2 separate regions of the Homo sapiens genome follow, and region 2 is reported to be linked to region 1. Evidence: microRNA targets listed by miRTarBase, many of them from high-throughput screens and not tested one by one. Region 1 holds a microRNA gene; the other region holds the end of a gene's coding sequence.
The links. Region 1 holds the annotated microRNA hsa-miR-6890-3p (CCACUGCCUAUGCCCCACAG, at 2,375-2,394, opposite strand). A microRNA usually pairs through its seed, bases 2 to 8, with sites in the 3' UTR of a target mRNA and lowers its output. Matches are read on the target gene's strand: a 7mer-m8 pairs with bases 2 to 8, a 7mer-A1 pairs with bases 2 to 7 and ends in A, and an 8mer does both.

Region 2: miRTarBase lists PI4K2B as a target of hsa-miR-6890-3p. Seed matches in the 3' UTR shown: 7mer-A1 at 2,119-2,125.

What each region holds. Positions count from the first base shown.
Region 1 is chr3:49,097,480-49,101,479 of GRCh38, forward strand. It overlaps MIR6890 (microRNA 6890), which reads right to left and starts at 2,435; the gene lies at 2,375-2,435. QARS1 (glutaminyl-tRNA synthetase 1) reads right to left here. Exons shown (of 24, transcript NM_005051.3): 10 at 3,876-3,962; 11 at 3,096-3,195; 12 at 2,901-2,979; 13 at 2,711-2,819; 14 at 2,482-2,612; 15 at 2,282-2,374; 16 at 2,031-2,168; 17 at 1,865-1,952; 18 at 1,631-1,774; 19 at 1,406-1,510; 20 at 1,121-1,213; 21 at 874-1,001; 22 at 713-779; 23 at 513-638. RefSeq lists an enhancer at 2,875-3,375.
Region 2 is chr4:25,276,643-25,280,642 of GRCh38, forward strand. It overlaps PI4K2B (phosphatidylinositol 4-kinase type 2 beta), which reads left to right. Exons shown (of 10, transcript NM_018323.4): 10 at 372-2,562. The coding sequence ends at 545. Among named protein-coding and RNA genes, the nearest start is that of ZCCHC4, 34 kb to the right of the region's middle.

The DNA.
Region 1 (4,000 bases):
CTGCCTCAAAAAATAATAATTAAAAAAAAAAAAGAGGTCGGGTGCAGTGGCTCATGACTGTGATCCCAGCACTTTGGGAGGCCGAGGCGGGCAGATCATGAAGTCAGGAATTCGAGACCATCCTGGCCAACATGGTGAAACCCCATCTCTACTAAAAATACAAAAAATTAGCCGGGTGTGGTGGCAGGCGCCTGTAATCCCAGCTACTCGGGAGGCTGAGGCAGGAGAATCACTTGAACCTGGGAGGCAGAGGTTGCAGTGAGCCGAGATGGTGCCATTGCACTCCAGCCCCGGGCGACAGTGCAAGACTGTCTCAAAAAAAAAGGCAGCCTTCATACAAAATTTTGTGCCTGGAGTTATCCTCAGTGCCAGTTTCCTCACTAGTAGAATATGAATACCAACTCCCTCAGGTGGTGAGGATTAACTAAGGGAATGTATGCAGAGCACTTGGCACAATGAACGGCAGCCACTGTCACTGCTGCAGATGAGGGCAGGTGAGTAAAGTCAAGCACCTTTCCCTGATGGCTGTCTGGATCCACGGAGAAATATCCAAGACGCTCAAACTGGAACTTGTCGAAGGGTTTTGCCAGGGCCACAGAGCAGTCCACTAATGCTGCATCCACCACGTGTAGTGATGCCTGCAGGCAGGGAACTCAGGCAACCATCCAACCAGGGAGGCCTACCTCCCTCACCCCAAACCTCATGAACCTACCAGGTTCAGGTCACTTAAAAATCCACCAGGCACCTCAGTAGGATCTTCAGGGTTCTTGTGCTGGAATCTGCAGCCAAAGTGAAGGTCATACCCCCAGCTGGGCAGCCATAGCAGGCAATGTGCATCTTGTACCTGCCCCCACCCCAGCTCTGTTCACTCACAGTCGCTCATAGAGGCGAACCTCACACATCAAAGGCTGTGACACCCAGTGAATAAAGGCCTTTGGCTTCTCTCCAGCATCTGCCCGTCTGCAGGTCACCTCCAGACTCTCTACACAACCACTGGGGCCCTGGAAGTGGGGGGAGGGGAGCAGCAATTAGACCCGGGAACCACAACCAGGACTGCAGGCTATACTCACATCTTGGCCCCAGCAGGCACTGCAGTAGGAAGGCTGCAGCTGGCTCTCACCTTGACAACATGCTGCAGCTCAATGACGTAGCCTGTATGCCTCAGGCCCACAGGCTGGCCCCAAGCCAGGCGCTTAAATCCTGGCTCTGGCTCCTAGAGATAGGAAGTGGGGTAGACACATGAGGCTGCAAGGGTCAAACAAGTGGGGAAGCTTCCCTACCCCCGTGTCTGGCAAAGATTGGTTCATCTGAAGCAGGAAGTAGATGGACTGACAGAGATGAGGAGATGAAAGGTTCCCAGTACCAGACTCAGCAGCAAACGGGACCCTCCACCCCCACAATTTACCTCCTTGAAGTCAGTCCTCTCAATGAAGACAATGGGTGCAAAGGGAACCTGATGGAAGCCTTTGGTCTCATCAGCTGGGAAGTTGGGCACCTGGATGTCCAAGGACTATAGCAGGAGACAGGAGACAGGTATGAGTCATACTCAGCATTAGGACCCCCATGCCCAGAGCCAAGTGTACCCCCAGCTACACACACACATGTGACACACATGTTGAGGCAGGCCCACCTTGGCAGCAGGAAAGTTGGTGATGATGACCCGTAGTGACTCCAGCACAGCCATGGCTCGTGGGGCTGTGTCATTCAGCACATCACGCACACAGGCTTCTAGAAGATGTGGCTCCATTGTGGTTTGTGCCACAGTCACTCCCACCTGGCAGGAAAGTTCAGCATCAGTCACAGCTACAATCACAAACTGCCACACTCAACCCCCAATGTATCTACCCAACCTGCTGGGCTATACCCGGGCACAGAAGTTGTTGATGGCCTCAGGTGGGAAGCCCCGCCGTCGCAGGGCCGTGAGTGTAAAGAGCCGTGGGTCATCCCAGTCCCTGTGGATAAGAAGGTGGTGAGAAGGCCTTTGGGAGCATATGCCATTAACCTTTCATAAGCCAAACAGCCGCACCTACCGCACAGCACCAGTTGCTACAAGCTGGAGGATCTTCCTCTTAGAGACAACAGCATAGTGCAGGTTGAGGCGGCCATACTCCCACTGCACAGGGCAATAGACGTCCAGTGCATTGCAAAGCCAGAAGTAGGAAGAGCGTCTGGGGTGGGAGAGTAGGGTTAGCACTGGCCAGCTCTGGAACCAGGCAGAGACCACAGGAAGGGCTGCTGGAATTCCACTGGCCCTACCACCCCATGGACCCAGCTCCCTCACCGGGCCTGGAATTCCTTGGTGCAGAGTGAGTGAGTGATGTGCTCGATGGAGTCACAGAGGCAGTGTGTGTAGTCGTAGGTGGGATAGATGCACCTGTGGGGCATAGGCAGTGGGCCCTACCATCCAGCCCTACTCTGCCCTACCCCATGGCCCATCGCCCTGCTCGGCAGCCCCACCACCCCACCCCATTCTACACCCACCATTTGTCCCCTGTGCGGTGGTGTGGTGTATACTTGACTCGATAGGCTACAGGGTCCATCTTGCCATCCTCCATCACCAGCTTCATCCGTAGTGTGGCCTCGCCCTCTGAAAACTTGCCCTTGCGCATTGCCTGAGGGGAACAAGGACTCAGGCTGTCTCTAAGCACAGGAGCATCTCATTCTCAGCACCTTGGCCCACCCAAACCCAGATGCTCCTCTAGGACCCCACCTCAAAGAGCAGCAGTGACTCCTCCATGGGACGGTCTCTCCAGGGTGAAGGCAGAGTATTATGGCCTTTGAGCTCCTCTCCTCGCTGGTGGCACACATAAGCCAGACCCCTGTGGGGAAGCGGTGTGAGTGCCCAGCATGGCTGTGACCTAGTCAGTCTGCCTGGCTCTACGTCATGGCCCTGGCCTTACCTGCGGATGAGCTCCACAGCCCACGCATATAGCTGGTCAAAATAGTCAGACGCATATGTGACTTTGTAAGGTGTGTAGCCTGGGGCAAAATGAAACAAAGTATGAGCAGCCAGCCACAAACACCCAGTGGGCAGGCCATGGCCCAAGGAGAGGCCCACTAACCACCAGCCCTTCTAGGCTTTGCCTAGTCCATACCTAGCCAGGCTACCATGTCACAGATGGCCGTGAAGAACTTTGCTTCCTCCTTCTCAGGGTTGGTGTCATCAAAACGCAGAAAACAGATGCCATTGTTGGCCTAGGAAAGTTGCACCATCTGTGAACTCCCACATCATCCATCAGCCCCACAATCCTGTTTATCAAACTAGGATATTCACAGAGCACTCTCATGTCAGAATTTTCTTTTTTTTTGAGATGGAGTCTTGATTATCTTGCACCATCTTGGCTCACTGCAGCCTCCACCTCCTGGGTTTCTCCTGCCTCAGCTTCCCAGTAGCTGAAACTACAAGCGTGTGCCACCATGGCCAGCTAACTTTTGTATTTTTAGTAGAGATGGGGTTTCACCATGTTGGCCAGATTGGTTTCGAACTCCTGACCTCAAGTGATCCACCCACTTTAGCCTCCCGAAGTGTTGAGATTACAGGCGTGAGCCACCCAACCCGGACTCATGTCAGAATTAAAAATGTCTTCAAGAGCTTCTCTCACCTTCCTGTATCTAACCTAGCATCTTTCTAAGCCTAGGGACTGCACTGGCAACTCCCCCAAATTTGAACTCACTGACTCCTCAGAGGGAGGGAGCTATTTATTCCAATAAGCTCAATAGATTCCTAGGTATCTGTCACACATGTGGTTCCTTTCCATGGCCTCTGCCCACCTGGGTACATTATTGGGAGCAGACAGCAAGGCAGGGATATGGTATCCACTCATGGGAACAGCAAGTGGTCATCTTGCTTGCCAGGTCCCTAGACACATGCTTACCTTGGCATAGCCAAAGTTGAAATTGATGGCTTTGGCATGTCCAATATGCAGGATTCCATTGGGTTCTGGCGGGAACCGGGTACGTACCTAAAATAAGGGGGATGGGAAAAGAGAAATAAAGTCTG
Region 2 (4,000 bases), not on the chromosome of region 1:
ACTGTTTAAACCAGTATTTGTTGAGTTTTTATGTTAAATTGAATATGTATGTAGACCTCTTCACTTACCGTTCTTTGATTCCATTGCTCCTGGACATAGGCAGGATATTCTAGAATATTTTAAACTTACCATCTGGCAAAAGTTATTTAATGCTAATTGTGTGTGTGTGTGTGTGCGCGTGTGTGTGTGCGCGTGTGTGTGTAAACATACATTCATATAATACATATTTATAACAGGTACTTATCTTCACAGTCTCTGTTGCTCATAAATGGATGAAATAAAAATTATAATGAATAAATGGTTTAAAAAATGTCAGTGAAGTGAAGCTTTTTATCTTTTTAAATTGGTAAAAATCTCTCTTCTTCCCACAGATCTTAAACCTTACTCAGGCATTGAGAGACGGGAAGAGTCCTTTCCAGCTAGTACAGATACCTTGTGTGATTGTGGAACGCAGTCAAGGTGGAAGTCAGGGTCGGATTGTCCACCTGAGCAATTCCTTTACCCAGACTGTCAATTGCAGGAAGCCATTTTTTTCCTCCTGGTAGTAAATGTCAGAGTAAGAGAAACAAACTGTTTAGAATTATCATGTTTTTAAAACATCATAGTAATATAAATCTGCTGTTAGGAGCTCCAGTTGCTAAAACCTCAATTTAAGTCTTTAAAAGGTTGTATTTTGAATGTAACCAAAAGTTTACAGTTTTTTGTCCAAATATTAAATTTCTATTTCAGGGAAGAAGTGCTATATCTCCTATATTGTATTTTTGTAGAAAATTTGTATTTTATGTTGTTGTTAGTTTAAAAGGTAATTTTACACATGCTGGAATGACTGTAATTACTCTAGAATTCCAAGTAGAATACAATAACTTTTAATATTGAGAAGAATGTTCATGCTAATTCTTCTTACATTACAAAAGGCCTTTGAGGATGCCTACGTCTGAAATTGCTCTTACGAACTTTAATAAAATAGTTAGCTAATAGAAAAACAGGTAAGAATAAAGCAATGTTGCCTTAATTTCAAAAGCTGCTATTTTAGAATTTGAATAAGTACTCCTAAAGTGACCATTATTAGGGACCAGAAAATTATATCTTGGCTAAGTAATAGAGGACCATTTTGGTTTTTGTACTTGAGAATATTTTTGGTGAATTACTTTGTTGTAGTGAGGAAAAAACCTAAGAAATTTCCCCTTTTTTTAAAAAATGGAAATATTCAATTGAGACTTGAGGGGAATAATAGAAAATTAAGGTAGATCCCCAATATTTTGGAATACCAAAATTGCCTTAAAAATTCCCTTCTGTTTCTTACATGGGATCAAATACTTGAGATTAGTACTTCAGAGTACTGGCCTTGTTCAATTTAGTACTTCAATTAGTATTAAACTTCACTAAAAAGTAAACCATACTCCAAATTGTATATTGGATTGCATTTTGGGGTCCTAGGTCATACGTTCTTCAAAATTATTATGATTGTACTATTGTACTTGAAATTACAGATGTTATTATAATTACAGTCAAATGTAGACTATCAGGCCAAATTAAAGGGGAGCATGGCAGATAACCATAAAGTCATTTATATTTGATTTTGAAATGTATTTTTGTACTTTATTTTGAATATCATCCATATGTCTGACATTATTGGAATTTGTAACATTGTTAATGCACTAAGTGATTTAAATTCAATTGATGAAGATGTGATTTTACAGAAGCAGAAGTTTCATTTTCTTGAGGCTTAAAACCAATGTCACCACTTGGGCTTAACTGGGTAATTTGTGGTCTAGGCCTTTTGTTTTCTAAGCTTACTATCTTGTGTTTGTTTATTTGCTTTTAATGAAGTATTTTGTGTAGAAGGTTAAATTAGGATGCAAAACAGATCTGCCATTCCTTTTTCCCTTATATCTTCCTTTTGGTCTTCATGGACGAGATGAATGAGGATTCTGCTGCCCTGAGGGAGTTCATTGGAAACCTGCGTTCTCCTACCTCTTCCAACCCTCCATTAGCTCAATTTTGAGATAATGGAAAATTGACTGGAAATTCAAAACTCAAACTACTATCTTTAGATATAAACACTAGTAATTAAAATGTGCCTTTTGAAGATGTTTTCTAAGAGAAAGGAAATACGTTGCAGTGATGTGGGTACTGCTTTCATAAAACAGTTTTTTCAGTATTTTGAGAATTGCCATATTAATTTTTATAATGGAAAACTTAATAAATTGCTACTGTTTTATATCATAAAATTAAAATACCATGGTAATATTTGCAAAAGGTCTGGCCATACCAGAAAAGTACAGTTGAGATAGTTAAGATATAACCACAAGTCAGAGTACATTGGTTGTATTTTGTAAACTTTCATGAACTGAATTCTTATTTAAATAGTATGGTTTTTTTTCAATAAGTATATTTATAGTGACAAATGTGGTAGACTAAAGGTAATAAAAATCATTGTCTTAAGATTATGTTCTTCTGTATGTACGTGTTTGGAATATTTAGAATGTTTATGAACACATTTACTATAAATGATGCCAAACTATCATTTTCTTCATATATTAAAGGTATAGTTTAATTCTTTTTTTTTTTTTTTTTTTTTGAGACGGAGTCTCACTGTGTTGCCCAAGCTGGAGTGCAGTGGCATGATCTCAGCTCACCACAACCTTCATCTCCCAGGTTCAAGCGATTCTCCTGCCTCAGCCTCCCGAGTAGCTGGGACTACAGGCGTGTGCCACCATGCCCGGCTAATTTTTGTATTTTTAGTAGAGATGGAGTTTCACTATGTTAGCCAGGCTGGTCTTGAACTCCTGACCTCAAATGATTTGCCTGCCTCGGTCTCCCAAAGTGGTGGGATTACAGGCGTGAGCCACCACGCCTAGCCTAATTCTTTATAATTCCAAAAGATATTTAACTGAAACCTTTATAATTAAAGACATCTTAATTGTACTTAATTAAATATGCCACCACCTTATCACCCCAAAATTTGTCAGCAATTGAAGACTGTTTGTGGAGACATGGTTTTTGCATACTTGAAGATAATTTGATTCACAAAACTTTTCAAAAATTTGAAATACTTTGGGCAGCCGAGGTGGGCAGATCACCTGAGGTCAGGAGTTCGAGACCAGCCTGGCCAACATGGCAAAACCCCATCTCTACTAAAAATACAAAAATTGCCCAGGCGTGGTGACACACACCTGTAATCCCAGCTACTCAAGAGGCTGAGGCACAAGAATTATTGAACCCAGGAGGGAGGGTGGAGGTTGCAGTGAGCCGAGATCACACCACTGCCTTCCAGCCTGGGTGACAGAGTAGATTCTGTCTCAAACAAACAAACAAACAAACAAACAAAAAAATTGAAGTACTGTACTATATGGAATTAAAACCTTTTTTAAAAATGACGGTGCCACGTTCTTTGATCAAATTACATCTTAAATCCTTGTACAGCTGTTTGAATAGACAGGCAGCATCCTAGGTTTTATAGTCTGCCTTCTTTCACCAACTTGCTTGGGCAACTGTACAGAGTTGTAGCAGAGATTCTTAGTGCTGTGCTATGTTTCCAAGTCTCTCATGCAATTAGTTTGGGGCCTTGTGACTGAGTTCTGGCCAGTGAGATGTGGAGACAAGTGATATATGCAACTTCCAGGCCTGGCAGTAAAACTGTCACGATTGACCACTCTCTTGTCTTTCCATTCAGCTATGAACGAAGAATTTGCAAAATGGAAGCAGCCAGGGCACAGGAGGCACTGCTGGGGAAAGCCACCAGGAGAGCCTCCTGACTGCACTTGATGGTGACATGAGCAAGAAAGAAGTTCCATGTTGAGTCACTGCAGTTTTGAATGTAATTGTTACTCTAGCTTCGTCTCTCCTATCCCAGACATTATGATGTAAAAAGAAAAATACCAATCACTTTTAAATAGGAGGCATACCGTAACATTTCTTCACTAAAGCTAGGTGAAAGGTTATCTTTTTGAATTCCAGAATATGAATAGTTTGGGTTAAAACCATCAATACATGGCCA